Linked DNA regions of Homo sapiens. The protein of the gene in region 1 interacts with the protein of each later gene in a biochemical or structural test. Each region holds a gene or a part of one and is shown in the gene's direction. Other genes may lie near its edges.

Region 1 (9,533 bases):
AGCACAGGACCAAGGCAAGGGAGTGAGACCAGGGCTTAATTTTAGAAAGTGCGTTCTGACAGCTATATCTCAAGATGCAGTAGGTGGGTTGGGGAGGCAGTAAGCTCCCCATCCTTGGGATGTTGCATGGCCACTGGGTGGGCTGGGGTATATTATATAGAGAAATGACACGTCAGATGAGGTGGCAGAGGTGTGAACAAGATGGCCTAAAGGTAGACCCCACAATGGCCATGTCCTTCCTCGCTAGCCCTCTGCTTTCACACTTTCTAGAAGGATCATTTTGAGGTAAGACTCCTGCAGGGATCAAATAAAAGGCATCTCCAGGCTTCAGAGAGGACTCAGACCTGGGAAGGGAGGACAGAGGGAATGAAGGCCAACCCTTCTCCCACGATGGTGTCTTCCTCCTGTCTGAGGTTTTTCTTCTCCCTCTGCCAAGAGGCACCCACTTCCCAGTGCATCAGTGAACAGGCATCACAGAACACTTCCTACAGGCACAGCCCAGGCCAGGCGGCATCCTGTCTCCCTTATCTGTTTGTCTGTCTGTCTACACCAAGTGCCTGAGTGAGATGGGGGCCACATCCTGCCAAACAAATAGATGAAAATAGAAAAATCCTGCCCACTTTCTGGATAGTACGAAGATCCAGATATTGAGTGTGCCATCCAGCCACACAGTCGTACTCTTTTGGTTTCTTTGAGATGTGGATTGAGGGTGTCTAGAGTCACTAGGTTCAGGACAGGAGCTTCTGGACACCTCGGCTTAAGCAGAGCATGTTCTGTGGTGCCAGACACGGGGTGGAACTTCTGGGCTGGAAAGTTGGGGAATGAGGTGGAGTCCCATCATCAGGGAGGTTGCCGGGATGAGTGGGGCTAAGCTGGGTGGCGGGAGGTAGCCGACAGTCAAAACCAAGAATGGCAGCCCCCCAGCACGTTGGTTGCCCCCAAATTCATCTGGACCTAGACGTCTTGACCCCCATCCCCACTCCCCGCTGCCCATTCTCTGCTCTGGGTTCTGCCTGATAGCATGAGTGGGGCCTGCTTCTTCACTCTGTCTGCTTCACTTCTCCAGAGCAGGAGGAGGCAGCGGAAGAGGATGCTGAAGCAGAGGCTGAGACCGAGGAGACCAGGGCAGAAGGTAAGTCTCTGGTTGAGGGTGCAGGGGCCTCAGGGGGTGGCGAGAGCCCCTGGAGCCATTCCTGAGGCAGTAAGAAACCCCCCAGAACAGGCTTTCCCATGTGCACCTGACTCTCCTATTGACTAAGATTCAACCATTGATTGCCCAATCAACAAACGTTGACCCAGCGCTTCTCTTGTGTCAGGCAGTCTTGGGTCCAGGGGAATGTGTGTGTGAGAGACAGCTCTGTAACCCCAAAAACCAACAGAGTGCATCTTGGCTAGGGCTTATCTGTGGGGAAGGCTCTTGCTGGTGGCGGAGGGGGGGACTTGAGCTCAGAACAAGGACCTTGATTGATTTCTCGTGTTTCATTTAGAAGATGAAGAAGAAGAGGAAGCAAAGGAGGCTGAAGGTAAGGATATCAGGAGAGAGGTACAAGGGAGGCAAAGGAACCCCTCACAGCAGCTTTGGAGGAGAATGCCCACAGTGCTCTTTCCAGGGAAGTGGATGTGCACTGAGAGGGTTTGGGAGAGGAGAGGACAGAACTTGGTGGCACTTCCAAAGTTTTAGATGTTGAGCTTTCAACTTTGCCCCTTCTCCCAGAGAAGTTGCATTGGTGGCACCCAGTGGGAGAGGGGACCATTGTCCAGCCCCCTGGTCTGGACAGAGCAATGGGACCCAGAAGTCATATCCACACATGAAGCTCCTAGAGCTTAGGTGAAATCACTTGTAGGATGTGGTGTCCGTAGGATGAAATCCCAATGCATAGATGGTCATGGTGGGTCATTGCTGCAGTCATCGTCATGCTGCAGCCTTCACCAGGGTTCTAAGTGGTCCCAGTCACTTCTCCAAAGGGGAGGGGACAACCAGCTGGGGCTTGGAATCATGTCATCAGCTTCTGCCCTGTGGCCACCGGGAAGTCCAAGGGGTAACAAAGAAGGCAAAGACCTGGGAGGGGATTCTAGGGCCAGGACCCTTGGGGACCTTTCCAAAGGCCTTGTCACTGTGAAGCACAAGAGAAGCAAAATTGCTTTGCCCAGAACTGGTGAGTGAGAGAAGGCTTTGTGTGAAGTTCCACACTGCGTGAGTGTGTGCCCTGCAGAACTCTATGGGAGGGGGAGTGTGGCATCTGCAGCCCCCGCTGCCTTCATTCTCCTGGATGCTTCTGGAATCAGGGCTCCCCAGTGCCGGGAGGGACTCACTGTGCAGATGGGGAAATGGAAATCCACAGGGATCTAGCTCATCGAGGGCGGAGTTGGGACCACTTCTGGGGCCCCCTGACCCATGGCTGTGTGCTTCTATCTCCTCCAGATGGCCCAATGGAGGAGTCCAAACCAAAGCCCAGGTGAGTGGGGAGGCACCTGGGTAGAGCCGGGAGCAGAGGCTCAGGGAGAGAGGATGATGATGGAACGGGGTGCAGTATGGTGCAGTGGACACGGGCTGGGGGTTTGGTGGGCACAGAGCACCACAGTACAGTTGTACAAGTTGTGTACTGCACAAGCGTCTCTTCCTAAGGGAGTGAGTGAGGGCTGAATTCCACCCAACACTCCATCACCAATCGTGCACCCTAGCAGGGATGGGGCTATGTTCTTCTAGAGGAAGGGCCCTGAACGGACACTCTCCTCTCTCACAGTATGGCCAGAACACCCTCCTCCATGGCCGAGGTGGGACCTTGGGATTAAGGGAAGCAAATTGTGGGGAGCCAAACAATGAAACCGTGCCAGCATAGGCATGGCGGCTTCAGAGAGCTGAGAGAGGGCAGGACGGCTTGGTGCCACACACGTGAAGCCCACCTGAAGGTGGTGTGTGCTGGGGGGGGCTGGGGGATAGGGAGCATTTCCCTTTTTATGATGCCAACCCTGCCAGCAGAGGTTGACCCATGGCACCTCTGCCCACTCACAGGCTCTTCCCATTTCAGTGGGGCCTTCTGAAACCAGCCCAAGACATCCCAGATCCATTTATTTGCCCAGTGCCTTCCCCCTTCCTGGCCTCTTGTGCACTGCGGTATCTCATTTCAGCTCCACACACCTGAGGGCAGATGGGGACATGAAGAATCAGAGAACCCCCTGGGTCTCAGTATGTGTTGGGACCAGGACCAAACTGCAAGACTCCCAGGTTCATGGCCAGTTTCTGCGGGGTCCACCAGGGGATTTGAAGTCCAAGAAGCATGGCATCTTGTCACAGCTTCTTTGATTCCAAGTTGTGTGGCTTTGAGCAAGTCATTCTACCTCCCTGAGCCTCAGTTCTCCTAAGTGAGATTAACGGTACCCACTTCATGGGCATATCATGAGCATGAAGTGAAATAGCATATGTGAAAGAGCTTTGTGTATTCCCAGGTGCTGAGCAAGGCTGAGGACTGCCATTGTTGACGTCAGTGTTACTATCATTGCTGTGGTTGGTCGGGGCAGTGCTGGAAGATTCTCTAGGAAGGATCAGGGCCCTGCCTGTCCTGGACACCCTCAGTCCCTGGGTCCAGAATGGGGCTGATGCTGACTATTCCTCTCTCCAACAGGTCGTTCATGCCCAACTTGGTGCCTCCCAAGATCCCCGATGGAGAGAGAGTGGACTTTGATGTAAGCGGTGGCTGTGGGTTGAGTAGGCCTGGGCTGGGGATAGTCCCAAGGGCCCTCAGTGACAGAGATTTTGTGACCTTGGGCTGGGGTAGAGCATAGGTGGGATGGGGTGCAGCACCAGCCAGGCTGGGTGCCCATCCATGAGCGTGGTCCTGGGTTCAGGCCACAGTTACCCCTTCCCTGGCCAGGCGCCAGGCCCTGCCAGAGGTCTTTTGCACTGCGTTGGGGGGTGTCTAGCCCACCCATCTCTCCTCTGGACTCTTTGGAGTGGCAGCCTCTGAGCCGCAGCGGTCCACCCACAGGACATCCACCGGAAGCGCATGGAGAAGGACCTGAATGAGTTGCAGGCGCTGATCGAGGCTCACTTTGAGAACAGGAAGAAAGAGGAGGAGGAGCTCGTTTCTCTCAAAGACAGGATCGTAGGTGTCCAGTCTGCCCACCTAACATTCTCTGATGGCCCAGTCTGTCCTCCATCCCTTTTGTGAGGCCCCACCTCCTCCAGACAGCCTTCCTCGGCGCCTCAAACCCAGCTAGGTGTGAGGTCTCCTTCAGAGGCCCTCCAGCATTCTGCACAGCTCCTGCAGCCCTGACTGGTTTCTCGGGTCCCTGCCTTCCCTCCCCATCCTACTGGATGCTCCTTGACTGCCAGAGCTGAGTCTGATCTGTTTCAGGCCTCCCCCAGGGCCTAATTCAGGCCCGGGCTGTGGACTGATTGGTCACAGGCCTGCTGCGCCACCCCTGCCCTTGCCTCCTCTTCCCCCGCAGATGAAGGGGAGTGTGACCTGCAGAATCCCACATCCTTCTCCTGCAGAGCGTGGAGGCTGCTTTGATTGCTTTTGTTTCTCCCCATCAAACTTGCCTTCCCACAGACATGCTGCTCTGGCTGGAGCAATGACTTGGCCATCTATCCAAGCATATGGCACAGAGCAGCTGCCAGGGCAGGGTGGGATGGAGGTGGGGGCAGAGCCCAGAAGGAGCCTGCCTGATGTCTCCCAGTTGTGGAGGGCAGTCTCACCATGAGGAATGTTGGAGGTGGGTCACTGCAGGTACCCTGGTGTGCACGTCCGTGGAGCTGGTTGAAAGTGGAGGCCCTTGGAGGCCGGGCACCATTGCTTCAAGACTCTGGAAGGAACCCTCCCCCAGGAATTCCCTTGCCACCCCATGCAGGTTTCTGTACCTGCGATGTCACCTTCTCCCTATGCACACCTGGGTGGGCTTTGCCTCTTCTCCTTAGGAGAGACGTCGGGCAGAGCGGGCCGAGCAGCAGCGCATCCGGAATGAGCGGGAGAAGGAGCGGCAGAACCGCCTGGCTGTGAGTGACCCCTAGCCCAGGCCCATGGAGGCCCCCCATGCTCCCAGCTCCTGCTGGGCCCCCAGGCCCCTCTCTATTCATCAACATGAATGAAATCAGTCAAGAGACAATATTGGCCGGGTGCGGTGGCTCACGCCTGTAATCCCAGCACTTTGGGAGGCCAAGGCGGGTAGATCACTTGAGGTTGGGAGTTCGAGACCATCCTGACCAACGGAGAAACCCTGTCTCTACTAAAAATACAAAATTAGCCAGGCGTGGTGGCACATGCCGGTCATCCTAGCTACTCAGGAGGCTGAGGCAGGAGAATCGCTTGAACCCAGGAGGCAAGGTTGCAGTGAGCCGAGGTCATGCCATTGCACTCTAGCCTGGGCAACAAGAGTGAAACTCCAACTCAAAAAAAAAAAAAAAGGAAAAAAAAGAGACAATATCAATATCAACCTAGGAAGTGCTGGGCATTGTCTTGGCTCTGATAATACATCAGCAAACAAGACAGAAATGCCTGCGTCCTTATGAACGTGTTATTTTATAAGACTCTCCAGCCCTCATCCCTTCCCCAGTGCAGACTTCGTGGGAACCGAAGGCCCCGTAGCTCTCTTCCTGTGCAGCTGCTGAAGGCATTTCCAGAGCAACAGGTCTTCCAGGGGCACTCCCAGCTTAAGGGGATGACGAGACCTCACATTTGGGAATCAGGACCTCATTCAATCACGCAGTCATTTCTCAGTCAGTGGACTCCTGTGGGCCAGCACTGTGCTGGGAGCTACCCTCTCAGAAAGCTCCTTGCTGAGCGGAGAGAAAGCTGAACTCACCCATAAAGACCACAAGCTTCAGCCCAGAATCAGGGTTTCCAATCCTTTCCCCTAATTTGCTTTCTTCCTCCCTGCTGTAAATCAGGAAGAGAGGGCTCGACGAGAGGAGGAGGAGAACAGGAGGAAGGCTGAGGATGAGGCCCGGAAGAAGAAGGCTTTGTCCAACATGATGCATTTTGGGGGTTACATCCAGAAGGTAGGTAGGGAGCAGCAGGGGTTGCCAGGAGATCCTAGTATAGCCCTGAGGAATGAGGTGTCCACTGCAGCAGGTAGACTTTAGGTCAGGTCCCAGGAAGAGATTCCCAGCTGCTGTGGGTGGAAGACTGAGGTCTCCTCATGCCCAGCCCTGAGCTGGTTTTCAGCCTGACCGCGGCTTGCACTAGGAGGGGCTTGCTGGGGTAGGGGGCTACAGGCAGAGCCTGGGGCACCAATGGTGCCCCCCATGCCTGGCTCCAGCAGTGCTCAGGAGCCCCCAAGGAGGCTGGGTGCAGCTGGAAGAGCCTTGTGCCTAGAGTCAGAGCTCTAGTTGGAGACCCAGCTCTGCCACATACAGTTGTGTGACCTTTTGCAACCTCTGAGCCTCGGTTTCCTCAACTGGCACTCATATTGCCTGCCTTGATGCTTTGAGAAGCTCAAATGAGCTACCATGGAAAGTGTCTATGTGCCACACAGATGTGAGGTTGTTTGTTCCTGGAAACTCACTCTCGATCCCTAACTTTTGTGCCCCATTCCTCCTAGGTCCTCCATTCTCGAGGGAGGAGGGATATGTGAAATTGATTTTCTCTAGGTAGTGAAGGAATCAAAACATTTTCTTAGATTTCCAGCTTAGTCCCTAGCTCAGGACTAGGCCACCCCCTGCCTCTGCCCCCATGGTGACCACACCAGCCAAGACTTTGGCATCAAAGTCTTCATGCTACCGAACAGCCCCTGCTGTAACCCTCAGACCCACGTCCTAGTAAACCCGGCTGACTACAGCGAGTATCTGAATCTTCTCTTCCATGTCTCTCCTTGCCTTTGTCTTCCTGCCTTCTCTCTGTGTCTCTGTTGCCGTCTTGGTCTTTTTCTATGGGCCTCTCTCTCATGGTTTCCCGGTTTAGCAGGCCCAGGTGGGTACCAAAAACCTCAAGCCTTCTTCCTCCCCATAGTTTTGGAGAGCTCCCTGGGAGGGGAAGGCGCCTTGCTGGAGGGGAGGAGTGAAGAGATTGGGCTGGCTGGGGAGGGGGGAAGCTGGTGAGAGGTGAAAGAGATTAGTTAGGCAAAGAAGGAAGAGACTGACGTGATCCTTCTTGCCCCTACCTCAGTTTCCCTAGGGAATACATGTAGTTGGTAGTTGGGGGGTGTGGCAGGAAGAAGAGCATAAGAACCTGGCCCTCCTGCAGGCCTTGCTCCACCCCCAGGGGGTTTGGGGAGGGTTAGGGGACAGGGAGGGGGCAATCTGGCCAGTTTACTCTGCTTCCCACACCCTCCAGACAGAGCGGAAAAGTGGGAAGAGGCAGACTGAGCGGGAAAAGAAGAAGAAGATTCTGGCTGAGAGGAGGAAGGTGCTGGCCATTGACCACCTGAATGAAGATCAGCTGAGGTGGGGGCTGGGAGGAATGGTCCTGGGGCACTGCCCGCATCTGCTCTGGGAGGGGTCGGGCCAAGGGCACTTCTTGCTGTGAGCCACCAGAGGGCAGGACTGCCTCACATATTTTCCCATGGCAAGTTTGGTGGGACCAGAGCTGGGCCCCAGCAGGTCGGGCCAACTCCTTTCTGGGCTTTGCTGATGGGGAAAGAGAACTGAGCAGGTGCCCCACCCCTCTGAGCTTCACCTACCCACCTGCACACGGGTGTCAGGACAGGGGATTGAACTAGATGCTCTCCTGCGCCAGAAGGGCTTCTCCTGCTCCCCGCTTGTTCTTGGAACTTTGCCCTGGCAGTCCCTGGTGTCCGTTCCTGAGCACTGGGTGCTGCCGTCTGGTCCCCAGGCTGGGTCAGGCCCAGGGGGTGGGCTGGGGTACCCTTGGCAGGCCTGGAGGTGGGAAGGAGGGCTGGGATGCTGGGGGCTGGGCCGGGACCAGGACGGAGGCCCAGGAGGGCCCTTTCTTACTGGACCTCCCCATTCTCACCCTTGCCCGTGCAGGGAGAAGGCCAAGGAGCTGTGGCAGAGCATCTATAACTTGGAGGCAGAGAAGTTCGACCTGCAGGAGAAGTTCAAGCAGCAGAAATATGAGGTGGGCCGCCATGCTGTCCCCGCCCAGCATCTCCATCTCACACTCCTCCTGGTTCACTGGGTCCGGTAATACTGCTGCAGGTCCCTGGGTCCCTGTCCCTATTCCCCAACAGCCCCCTTCAGCTCCTGCATCTGCCCCTGCTGCCTGGCCTTCAGCAGTGTTCCATGTCCACCGCATTGACGACTGCTTGCTGGAAGTGTCTGAGAGCTCGCTGGGGCTGAGCAGAGACACTTTCCTGGTGTTCCAACCCTGGGGGTCTCCAACACGTTGAGGCAGCAGCTCAGTGATCTGAGCTGGTTACAAGGACCAGGATGCACCAAGCCAGGACCCCCAGTGGAAGGGGAGTGCTGCCAACAGAGAGGTGCTTCTCCCCACATACACCCAAGGTCCTGGTGTGGGCACAATTAGGCTGAGCCTCAAGCTCACAGTCTTTCGGAGTCCTATGTGCACTAATGAGGGTCTTAGGTGAACAGACACCAGGCAAGGAAATGGCTTAGAGGACACTGATGCTGCATACCGGAGCTTAGACCTGGGCGCCAGTCCTTCCTTACCCACCACCCCCGAGCCCCGGTCCCAGGGCCTCTTTGCTACCTAAGGGAAGAATTCAGCTTCCCCTGGAAGGTCTCCTTTGCTGCTCCTGCCAAACCACTCCTCCCTGGGCAAGAAGCCCCTCGCTGGGCAGGCTCAGGCTGCAGTGGCTACAGGGTACTCCCACCTCCCAATACGGAGAGAGGCTGTATTGCCTGGTGACAGTGGCATGGACTTTGGAGCCATAATGCCTGGGTTGAATTTCTACCTGTGCCCCTCACTGGCTGTGTGACATTGGGTGAGTTAGTCCACTGTTCCTTGCCTCCATTTCCACAGGTAACACTACAATATACTTCAGAGGGTGATTGTGAGGGTTACAGAGATAATACTAATTGTTATTATTGCTATAGTGTTCCAACCACTGTTCCAAGCATGTCCCATGTATTAACTTACTATGCCCTCATAGCAGCCCTATGGGTTCATATCTGGGAAGGTGCTCAGGACAGAGCCTGGCACCCACTAAATGCTCAGCAGGTGTCAGCCATTGTTATGGCCTCTCTAGTCCTGTGCCTTCCACTTTTTTCTCTTTTTTTGGTTCCACACTGAACTCTGCACCGGCCAACAGGACACAGATTTGCCAAACTTTGGGGCAGCACCCTGCAGGGGTGGTGCATGGGGATGCTACTGCTCAAAGGGCACAGCTTCCGGGATGGTGGGCAGCTGGGCAGGGGTGCCCCAGAGGGGTCTGGGGCTGGGCTGCTAGGAGGGCTCCATGACACAGCCTCCAGCTTTGTGCCCAGCTCTCAGAGGCCCTTCTTATGGGACTCTCATATCCTGAACCTATTATGGCCCTGGGACCCCACAGTGGGAGGCCCATGAGGCATCCTGGAAGCTTCTCCTTGGCTTCTGCCTGTGGTACACGGGCCCCTCCTGACCCTTAACTATCCTAACCCCTCCTACTCTTCCATGCTCCTCCTTCTCCTCCTGCAC
Region 2 (10,901 bases), on another chromosome or scaffold:
TGAAGGCACTAGATCCAGAAAGTAAGCTGTGAGTTATATATAGCTCAGTGCTTTATATGGTATAGTGAGCTAGCTGCCCCCTGCCCCTCCTGCTGGCCCCGCCCCCACCTGTCAGCCTTCTGACAACCACCACATAGTTGCAGGGGTGATGCACACAGCTAAGGCTCTCCTAAGCTCTTTGTCCACTGCCCTTTGGAAGCTTTTTAATTGATAGCTTGCCTCTTCTGCCTCGGAAAGTCAAGCCAAAGGACCAACTTCTTTTCACACCGTTGGATTCCATTCTAAAAGCTAATTAAGCCTAGAGGCCCAATTAGAAAAGAATTCCTTGGGAAGTTGGTAACAATTCCAAGAATGTGTGAGCACCAGGGAAAGCTATGCCAGCAGTTGAAACACCGAGAGCAACAGCAGACTTTTTTATATGAAAGTAACATGCAAATAACTGAAGGGTCTCAGGTCTTGAAATTAGTGAAGTCTTTTGTAGCATGAAAGGCTTGAGATGTATATCCAGGTGTGCTTTGTAAATGAGAACTCCAGAGACGACATTTAGGATCTGACAAAAAGAAATTTTCAGTGAAAATCAAGCTTCCTGGAAAGGGGATTTGGGGGGAAGCACTGATTTCGCTAAAACATTTAAATTCTAAACTACCTGGCTTTGGAAAAAGAGCCAAAAACCATATATGACTCTGAGCCTACTTTGTATAATGCAGATCAGATGCCTGCTCTATATATGGCTAAATGGAAGATGCCTGCCTCCCGCAAATTCTCCAGCAGGACGTTTATTTAGCTTTTTCAAAAGAGCTGCTAATAGATCAAGGAAAGATATTCCTTATAAGGAAAAGAATGCAGAGAATTTGAAAATAGCCCAGTAAGACTGAAGGCAAAAGAGGGAGAAAAAGGTTACTACAATTCTTAAGGGAAAAAAATAGGATAATAATTATTGTAACTATGTAGTGCTAACATGTCTTTATTGAAAAGTCTTGTTGAAGGGAGCGCTGGAATGGGGTGGGGCAGAAATGGGAAAGAAGTTATTTAAAGTCAGCTGGTGTGGGAAGCAGCAGGGGAGGGAGCTTCTTGAATCTTGTTTTGGTTATTTTTCCCACCGGGAAACTGCCCCTAAATCTGGCATATATGGCTTTTTTGATAGTGTATTGATCACATTCCCTTTTAGGACACTTTAGGTTGTCTGGAGTTTGGAGCCCGTAGGAATATTGAAGAAGTTAGTGAAGAAATGCTATACAGTCATTTGTTGATTAATGAAGGGGGATAAGGTCTGAGACATGTGTCGTTAGGTGATTTATTCATTGTGCAAACACCATAGAGTGTATGGTACTTACACAAACCTAGAGGGTATAGCCTACTAAACACCTAGGCTACAAACTTGTACAGTGTGTTACTGTACTGAATACTGTCAACAATTGTAACACAAATCACCAGGCGATAGGAATTTTTTAGTTCTATTGTAATCTTATGAGGCTACTCTCATATATGCAGCCCCTCATTGACCAAAACATCATTATGCAGTGCATGACCATATTGAGAGTATTCGTTTTTTATTTACTAAAAAATAGTCAAAACTTGAGGAGGAAGAGACAGATGTCACTAGAAAAAGGGAGAAGTCCGGTAAGGGAGAAGTCAGCTTCCTGAGGTGGAATCGTATTACCTTTGGGATTAGGACATTTCATTGTCATTATTCACCAGTGTAAAACACTTTTACATTTTTCTACTATTATTACTAAAAACATTTTTCTACTACTTTACAAATCCTATTCTGGAAGTGGGCTCTACCTAGCTTAGAAGATTGTCATTCAGGAGTAGTATCCCTGATGGTCTTGTTTCGAATTTTGTGTTGTCTTTCCACCTAAGTCAAAAGTGAGGCTGAAGGGGATCGAAGACTCCATTTTTTTCTGGCCCCCAATCTCTTCCCCAGTAACTGTGATATATCTGATATTTATAGCATATGAGTCTTTATCCCTTTGTAGGTCTTTACTTCTTAACTTAGGGATTCTCAACCTTCTCTAAACATAATCACTTAGGGAGCTTTTAAAACCCAAAGTTAGGATGCACCCAAAGCCAGTTAAATCAGAATCCCTGGGGATGCAACCCAGGCGGCAGCATTTAAAAAATACCCAAGTGATTCCAACCTACAGACAAGGATGAGAAAACTCTCCTAAACTCTTGTATAATGACATCGGCATGAAAATGAACTCACCTGAAACTGACCTTCCCAGGACATTAAGTCACTAGTTGGCTGCTTATGGCACTTGCCAGTGTCCAGCAGTTTCCTGGCTGCTCCTGGAGGTTGCCAGACACCCGGTTCCCCCATTCTCAATGTTGGAGGCCCACAGTCTCTGCACTTAGGGGACCAGCTGTAACCTCCCCACCTGACCAGATGAACCGCGGGGAAACAAAGCGAGAAGCTCCCACCTACAGGATGCAAGGACCCAAGCTGGGATTTGTGAGAGTCTCAGCAGAGGCTGTGAGGAACTCCACAGAAAATGAGGCAGGAAAGCAAAAGTTCCTTGTTAGGGCTTGGAGGAGGAGAGGGTTGTCAAGCATGTTTTCTTTATTATTCCCACACATAAGGGAGCTGGCTTTAAGAGCTTTCTGTGACAAACCTGAGGAGAAAAAGCCCTGAGACTTAGAAGGCATTTAAGAATACAGCTCAAGGGGGAAATCGGTGGAGACTGTATCTGCGGTGGTTTTCTCCACCTGTAGCCAGAGGCTCTCTCATAGGGTTCTGTGGCTTTCCTTGGGGTGCCTTTTAAAGGCATCCCAGTCCAGCCCAGGACTGACTGGATTCCAGGAGATCTCAGAGGCTGGTCTGACACCAAAGAAGGCTGTAAAGAGAAGAGACCATTTGGATGACTGTTTTCATGGAAAGTGAGCCCCAGGGAGGCTGGCCTGAGATTACACAGCTGATTATGGGCCTCAGCCTGACTCTTAAAACAATGCTTGTGTATTTCTTAATCGTAGCTATCATTTGAGTTTTTAACTATGTACAAGGTATTGTGCTAAGCGCTTTACAGTCCTTCATAATTCTCATAGCAGCCCCATGGGGAAAGTACTATTATTATTCCCACTTTTACAGATGACGCCCAGAGAAGACAGGTAATGTGTCCGAAGTCACGCAGCAGGAAACTAGGAGCCAGAGTCAACCTAGGAAAACTGCATTTAGAACAGGAGGTCTAACCACTGTGCTCTACACGCGGGTGGTTTTCACTTCGTGAAGTTTTGGGGAATGGGGGTAGTGCTTGGGTTATAATCTTGCGGTTGGGATCAGGCCCTTTAGGGCATATTCCGGCTCCAGACCCGCCGCTCAGCTTCTCTGGCTCCCGGGCATGGGAATCTGGACTCGGGAGCGGAGCGCTCCCGCGGCCAGCAGGAGTCGCTATTGCCCTTAGCAGCCAGCTCCGTTACCCCGGGTCACCACCGCGCCGCGGAGGGGCCCTAGAAGTGGAAGCCAGAGCCCTAGTGCAGTGGCCTCCCGGAGCGCCCAGCTCACCAGGTACCCCCGCAGCGCGCCGGGAGCGCCTTTCTCCCCGCCGCCGCGAGCATGCGCAGTGCCCCCAGCCAGTCCCGGGATCCACGGCGCGCGCCCCTCCCAGCCGCGCGCGCCCGCCTGCGGTTTGTCTGCGCAGCCCTGGAGGCTGCGACTTCCGGACTGCTCCTGGCCGCAGGGGGCGCCGCCATCGCACAGAGAGGCCTGGGCGGGGCGGACCGGCGCTGGGCAGCCAGGACAGCCGCGGCAGCCGGGTCCGCAGGGCAGCAGCCGGCCTCTCCCACTGCAGCCCTCCCGCCCGCCTACCGTCCGGCGCGATGGCGGGGAGTAGCTCGCTGGAGGCGGTGCGCAGGAAGATCCGGAGCCTGCAGGAGCAGGCGGACGCCGCTGAGGAGCGCGCGGGCACCCTGCAGCGCGAGCTGGACCACGAGAGGAAGCTGAGGGAGACCGTAAGGGATACACCCATCACCCCGCAGCCCCCAGAGGCGCATCCTCCCGGGGCAGCCCCGCAGGGCCCTCCTGCTTCCCCCCCCGCAGGCCCCGGTCCCTCGTCCCCACGCCTCCAGGGCGCACCTGGCGCACCTGGGCCAGCTGGCGGCGGGCTCTGGGGAGGGGCCCGGCCTGTTCTCCTGAGCCTTTGTTTTCCATCTCGCTGATCCAAAGTAAACGCTCCCAGGGGAAACGGGTGGTGTTGAGAAGGTTCTGGAAGGAGCATTTTCCCAGGAAGGGTCTGTTTCTGGGGTGGTGGCTTTCAGTCGTGTCTGTGCGTCCCCGGGAGGTGCACTTTGCGCTGCTGGCTTGCTTTACTCTGAGAGTGGAGAGGGAGGAGGTCCTTCCTCTTGGAGATCCGTACTTTGAGAAGGGGCGCCGACAGGTCAAGTGGGAGAGGCACTGTGGACTTGGGGCCCGGGGATGCTACACTCCGCCGTTCCCGTCGACCCTGTGGTTTCCCGGCGGCCTGTGTCTCCGAGGCGGTAGACAGACATTGACAGCTTGACAGCGCCGCGTTCTGCTGGAAGAGCTAAACTATAGTGCAAAACCCTTAACCCGTCCCTTTTTTCAGCAGTCCTCCTCCCCTTTTCTCTCATACAGATAGATAATGCTTTGTTACCAAGTCTTGGAAAAAGTTGGCGAAATGTCAACAGTTATTGGGTGTATTCTCTTGCGGGCTTCCCCTCCCCCTTGTTAAATGTAATACCTGGCTTCCTTCCTTTCTTCTAAGGCAAATGTATCCAGCAAACACGAACAGGATTTCAGAGGTAGTCTAGTATTGGATATTTGTCGATTTTGTGTGTGTGTGTTTTTAATGAAGATACTGAAACAAACACCTTGGGAGTTTTATGACAATTGATAGTATGATGTCCTGCTGTGCTTAATATACGGGGTTGTTCTGAGTTGAGTAAATCGTTCTAGTTAAGTGTTTGTAAATGGCTGTATGGCTGGCCACAGAAACTTCAAGACCTGAAATGGTCCTCTTCAGAGGAAAGCTCAACTAGAGAAAGTTTCAGATAAAATACAAGCAGGAATAAGGAAATTAATAGGCAAAAGATAATTCTCAGTATTTGCTTTATAGGACGAGTCAGCAAAAGTCCTGTGGATATCCCTGAACTTGGCTGGGTGGTAAACTAATTCCGACTCCCTTACTCGCTAGTAGCTGTCCTTGAACCATTAGAACTATATAGAATATGATGGATAAAAACAAGAACTTTGGACCCAGACTGTCAGAACTTGAATCCTGTCTCCACTACTTACTAGCAGTGGGCAAGTTACTTAATCTCTGTGTTTCAGTTCCCTGTGTGTAAAGTGTGGATAGTAACAGCATCTACCTGTCGGTTAAAGGAGTTACTATGTAAAGACAGTACACTGATGCTTGGCGCAAAAGGGTAAGTGCTGTGTGCCCGCTGTCATTAAAACTGCACAGCCCTGGCAGCCCAGTGCTCCTTCACCTTCAGTTCCCCACCCAGCAAGAGGTCTTAAAGATGGCCTGCTCATTTCATGACATCATAAAACACTTCATTTACTGCTTTTAATCAACATTTGTTGGGGCGGGGGGCTTGAATGAAGAGGAAGTGGGCGGGCTGGTAGGCATGTTTGATGGGTTAAAGTGGTATCAGTGGTAGAAGTCTGAGGTCTCCTCACCCTGCTAAGAAAGAGTATGTGTGACCCTATGCAGGAGAGCCTTGTATTGGCTCCTGGCCTAGTGATTGATGTTAGACACAAAAGATAAATTTTATGAAGGGCACATTATTACTTTTATTCTTACCTTCTCTTTTGCACGTCGTTTTTATAACAGAACTCTTCCTGTGCCAGTTGGCTAAAGATAGTACTTTCGTTCTTTTCACGGCTTTATATCAAAAGTAGTTTAAGTAGTTTCAATTTTTTTAAGTAATCTTTGCAAACAATCTACCTGGGTGATTGATTGAACACAGAACCTTTTAAGACAGCAACTTGAAGACTGGATCAGACCATTGAAGAGAGACTTTCAGGCTGCAAGTTGTTCCTAACTTCTGAAATTGGAACTTAAATGTAGCTGACTTAGGTATTTAGATGTAGCTTGGGCTGTGAGTTAAGCTAGCAGTAACAGTTTCTTTTGGCAGCAAAGATAAAGGTTTAGTGACAAAACCATGAGCCACTGCAAAAAATATTTGACCAGAGAGTTGGCCTAAATTCAAATACTCAGACTGTAATTAATAGGCCCTATTAAACCAGCCCTTACCTTGGAAAAAGCAGCCATCCCTTACTTCCTCCTAGTCTGTGTTTCCAAGGTGTGTGGATCCTTCAAAATGTTGGAATGAGGCTACTTTGCTTGACATGATTGATTCCAGATCTTGTGACCCACTAGGGTTATGTTTGCTTTTTTTCATTATTTAAAGAAAAAGGCAGGATGAATCTTCCTTTCTGAGTAGTATCCAGCAAACAAGGAGACAGGGAGTTGTGGCCAGAAGGTTCTTAATTAGTAACATGATTAAATCATGGGAAATAACCAATTTACAAAAATTCCCAGCACTTTCCCTCTTTACACTTGGTAAGTATTTCCGGGATAGGAAAACCGAGGGTGCATTTTGTGCTTGCATTGGCACTCCCAGAGTGGCTGTTAACTGGAATGTATACTCTCGATTTCCGCTTTCATATGTAGGCAAGGCAGAGGCACTACAATGCCTTGTTCATGTCTGTTCTCCCTCATTATACAAATATGCTTCATAAATTATGGGCTTTGGCACACACAGGAGGTTGTGTTTATCTGTTATCCATGGGAGTGCCCCTTAATGTCATCAGTGTTTTTTTTTTTCCCCCCTTTCCTTACCATATAAGGGCAGAAGTTTAGCTTGGCTGTGGTCACTTGGCCTTACACAGCAAGTTGGGTGAAACCTTCTTCGTATAACTACAGTTTGCATGAAATAAAAAGACCTGACCTTTGATCATCCCAAGTTCCACTCCAGTTCAGTCAGGACTTTGGAAACATATTCCAGAGGATTGATTTCTAGATTATAATATTCTCCCACCAGTATTTTTTCTTAATAACCTTAACTGGAATACTTTTTTAAAAAGTAAAAGTCACTGCCATTTTTAATTTTCTGTTGTTGTATTGGCTAAAACATCTGGATTTCATGAAAATCTAGGCCTCATAAAAGTTGTTTTTTTTTTTTTTTTTCAAATCTGATTTGGGATAATATTATACTATGGTGGGGTGGGCATGCCCTTGATTTCTATATAGTACCATGTTGGGGTGGGGGAATGGGGTGCATGCCCTTAGAGGAGGGTCATATGCATTGTAAGGCACCTCAAGTACAGAGCACCAGGAAGTTACTTAAAAACATCTGCAGGAGGACATTGGTAGCCTTTACTAATACAGCAGTCTCTTTTTTGAGTAGTTCATTGTTAGAACACAATAGCACTTTTGAAATAAAAGAAACTAGCATCCCAGATTGAAAGACTTCACTGGCAGTCAGCACATGGGCTGCTGTTAGAAGAAAGCTAACTTGGCTGGGTGCAGTGGCTCATGCCTGTAATCCCAACACTTTGGGCGGCCGAGACGGGTGGATCACCTGAGGTCAGCAGTTCGAGACTAGCCTAGCCAACATGGCAAAATCCCATCTCTACTAAAAATACAGCAATTAGCCGAGCATGGTGTCACGTGCCTGTAATCCTAGCTACTGGGGAGGCTGAGGCAGGAGAATCGCTTGAACCCGGGAGGTGGAGGTTGCAGTGAGCCGAGGTCATGCCACTGCACTCCAGCCTGGGAGACAGAGCTAGACTCCATCTCAAAGAAAAAAGAAGAAGAAGAAGAAAGCTAACTCAGTACACTAAGAGTGATTTACATGCCTGCAAATAATTTGTGTCTGGGGTCTTGACCCTCCCCAAATGCCTTGTTATTTATATCTCTGCTTTTAGATAACAGATGGTCATGTGTCTATGGGCTTGTACCGGCAGAGGCAACAGCAGGTCCTTAAGACTCCCCAGGTGCCATGATGAAAAGAACCTTAGAAAATATTGAAATAAGCTCAAAACTTAAAAAAAAAAATACCAGAAATAAAAGCTAGTAAAGGTGAGAGGTGTGGGGCTTTTGGAACATAGAGCATAATAAATCAGAATAAAAAGTAAAAATAAGAAAGAGAAAAAAGTGGCCCTGATTAAATTATAAAATTAAGCATATCTTGAATTCTAACGAGCCAAACAAAAATTCTACTAGGCCAGTATAATAGGGCCTGCAGAGCCTGTCATGGGTTCAGGGTTTTCCCATAAAGATAGGTGTACCTCAGATACTACTCCTAGGTCCTGGCTTTAACCTCAAAGCCCCTCTGCCTGTCCTGCTCTGAAACCTCTGGGGCAGTAGGCATTGACTTCTGGGCTAGGGAGTAAATGTTCCGTGTCCTTATGTGAGCTTCCTATTACCCATTAGCATTGTTTTATGAAGTTTTCAATTTTATATCCTGCCTCATTTCAAAAAGATTGTGATAATCACTTTAGCAGATGATTTGCATTGCAGCAACTGTTCTCCCAGTCCTGGTTAGGATCTGTGCCTGAGGCCTTTTGTGGGGAGTTGGGGTGGGGGCCGGAGAACATCTCAATCTGATCTCAGGAGAGATAAAGACACAGGAGTGAGAACTGCCAGTTCCAAGGTTTCCGTGATGTTCCGGGAAGCCAGGAGAAGTGACATAGTGGAGAGCCGGCATGCTGGGAGCCTAGTGACTTGGATCTTAATCCTGTCTCACACTGATGGCTGTATGGCCTCCACATACTTCTGTGCCCAGGGTCAGAGTTCCCTCCTGCCGCCTGTTTCTAGTCAAGAGCTAGAAGAATAGCCAGCTTCTTTGGGTGGTGGCAAAGGGGATTGTTTATTTATAGTACAGATTCCTGCCCTCCCCCTTTGACCTCCTGAATCAGAATCTCTAGGGACACGGCCTGGAAGTTTGATTTTTTTTTTTTTTTTTTTGTTTTTGAGACAAGAGTCTTGCTCTGTCGCCCAGGCTGGAGTGCAGTGGCATGATCTCGGCTCACTGCAGTCTCTGCCTCCCGGGTTCAAGCAATTCTCCTGCCTCAGCCTCCTGAGTAGCTGGGATTACAGGCATGTGCCACCATGCCTGGCTAATTTTTGTGTTTTTTGTAGAGACGGGGTTTCACCATGTTGGTCAGGCTGGTCTCGAACTCCTGACCTCATGATTGCCCGCCTCGGCCTCCCAAAGTGCTGGGATTACAGGCGTGAGCCACAGCGCCCAGCTGAAAGTTTTTTTTTTAATGCTCATCTCTGAGTTGATTCTGACACTCAGCCACTTGTGGGAATTGCTGATCTGGACAATGCCTAGGGATCCTTCTAGCTAAAAAATTGAGACCCTATTTTTTGGATTTACAGGGCCTCCTCAGGAAGGGGCAGCCACTCTCAGGTCTGCTGTGTGTGCCCTACCATTCCTCCCACTATATCACAAACTGGCACCTAGAAACTGGTCTCCATGCCCAGTCGTTGCTGGGGCACCCTGTATGAAGCCCTGCTGGCTGGTATTCCTGTAGGACATATTCTCTGATGTCCAGGAGTCTGAGGTTCTACAGAATGCCCCTGGGGAAACAAGAGTGGCATTTAGACAACAGCATTCTGTAAACACAGTGCCAAGAGCTAAGGGAAAGAATGGGGGTGGGGGTGATCGGAGGGAAGACACGGATGGATTGGTAGGGGCCCTTTGGGTAGGAAGATCTCATGTGCAAGGCTGGAATGAACATGAGGTGCTGTTTCCTTCCTTTCTGGTGACTCGGCTGTGTGGGGAGCTGGGGATAGAGACCTGTCACCCAGAGGGTTCTTTCCCCAAAGCATAAACAGTCGTCTTTCTGTGAGTACAAAGTCCTTGAGGTTCAGGCCCAGATCTAAAGCAGAGCAGAGAACTTGGAACTTGGTAGCTACAAAAAAGTTTTGAAAATCTTGCTGGCATTTCTCTAATAGGCCATAGCCTCTGTAACAAGGATATTTGCCATCATATTGAAAATGATAAGAAAGGGGGAAAGAAAAGAAAGTGTACAGTGCTTTTGAGTACATAACCTAGACACTCTATGGAGGCTTTTTGTTGTTGTAGGGCTTTTGGTTTGTGTGCTTGGTTTTTTTGTGTGGCTTTAAATTTTGTTTTGTTTTGTTTGCCCTTTGTTTTTGCTTCCGCTTTGAGTCTCCCCCCCACCCTCAAAAGGAATAGAATTTTACTGGAAAATGAAAATATAGAAAAGTGAAGAAATCTTACCTGACCCAAAAGTATATCCTTAATATATACATCCTTCCAGTAATAGTAATAAAAAAAAAAAGCCTAATGGTTTTTAAAAGACACTTCCCTATAATTGAGAGATTTGTTATCCTATTACCCTCACCCTTCAATACACACACACACCAGAAACAACAGTCATCTGCCAGTAATTCCTAGCTGGGTCCATTTACCAGCTGTGCACTGATAATGATTTACTTTGTAGGCAGTACAGTTGTAAATGCTCTTCCTCTGATTTATTTCACATTTGCCCTGCTCCCTGCCTCCATCAACCAATTACTACATTTTTGTCAAGATAAAAGTGTATTTACATGTTTTTATAGAGTCCTTCACCGTGGTTGGAGATGCCCTACTCACCTCTCTTCCCAGATAAAACTTGGCATTTAAAATCTTACAAATCTAGGTGAGCAAAGAGCTGAAGGTTCTCAGATTCCTTTGATTAAAGACTATGACCACAGTTTCTAACTACATTTGCATTTCCAACTCTGTATTGTGGATCCATAAGCTGAGAACGTTGCTTTTATTAAAATTAGGTTGGTTTTACTCATCTTACTGAGCCCATACTCTGTGCAGAGAACTGTGAGTTCTCTGGATGTGAGCAGCTTACAGTTCAATGACAAAGACAGGGCTGTGTGTAGAGAAATTTGTTATCCTATTACCATGGG

The links.
Region 2: the proteins of TNNT2 (region 1) and TPM1 form a complex in vitro, tested with the Homo sapiens proteins (one study listed by BioGRID).

The regions. Positions count from the first base shown.
Region 1 is NC_000001.11:201,359,761-201,369,293, reverse strand, and holds part of TNNT2 (troponin T, cardiac muscle), read left to right. Parts: intron 1-1,066; coding exon 1,067-1,132; intron 1,133-1,487; coding exon 1,488-1,523; intron 1,524-2,422; coding exon 2,423-2,456; intron 2,457-3,623; coding exon 3,624-3,684; intron 3,685-3,986; coding exon 3,987-4,103; intron 4,104-4,918; coding exon 4,919-4,996; intron 4,997-5,887; coding exon 5,888-5,998; intron 5,999-6,899; coding exon 6,900-6,908; intron 6,909-7,271; coding exon 7,272-7,381; intron 7,382-7,924; coding exon 7,925-8,015; intron 8,016-9,533. UniProt on the Homo sapiens protein: Troponin T is the tropomyosin-binding subunit of troponin, the thin filament regulatory complex which confers calcium-sensitivity to striated muscle actomyosin ATPase activity.
Region 2 is NC_000015.10:63,044,760-63,055,660, forward strand, and holds part of TPM1 (tropomyosin alpha-1 chain), read left to right. Parts: intron 1-1,274; exon of another isoform or gene 1,275-3,816; coding exon of another isoform or gene 3,817-3,948; intron 3,949-4,081; exon of another isoform or gene 4,082-4,628; intron 4,629-5,287; exon of another isoform or gene 5,288-5,382; intron 5,383-10,901. UniProt on the Homo sapiens protein: Binds to actin filaments in muscle and non-muscle cells. Plays a central role, in association with the troponin complex, in the calcium dependent regulation of vertebrate striated muscle contraction.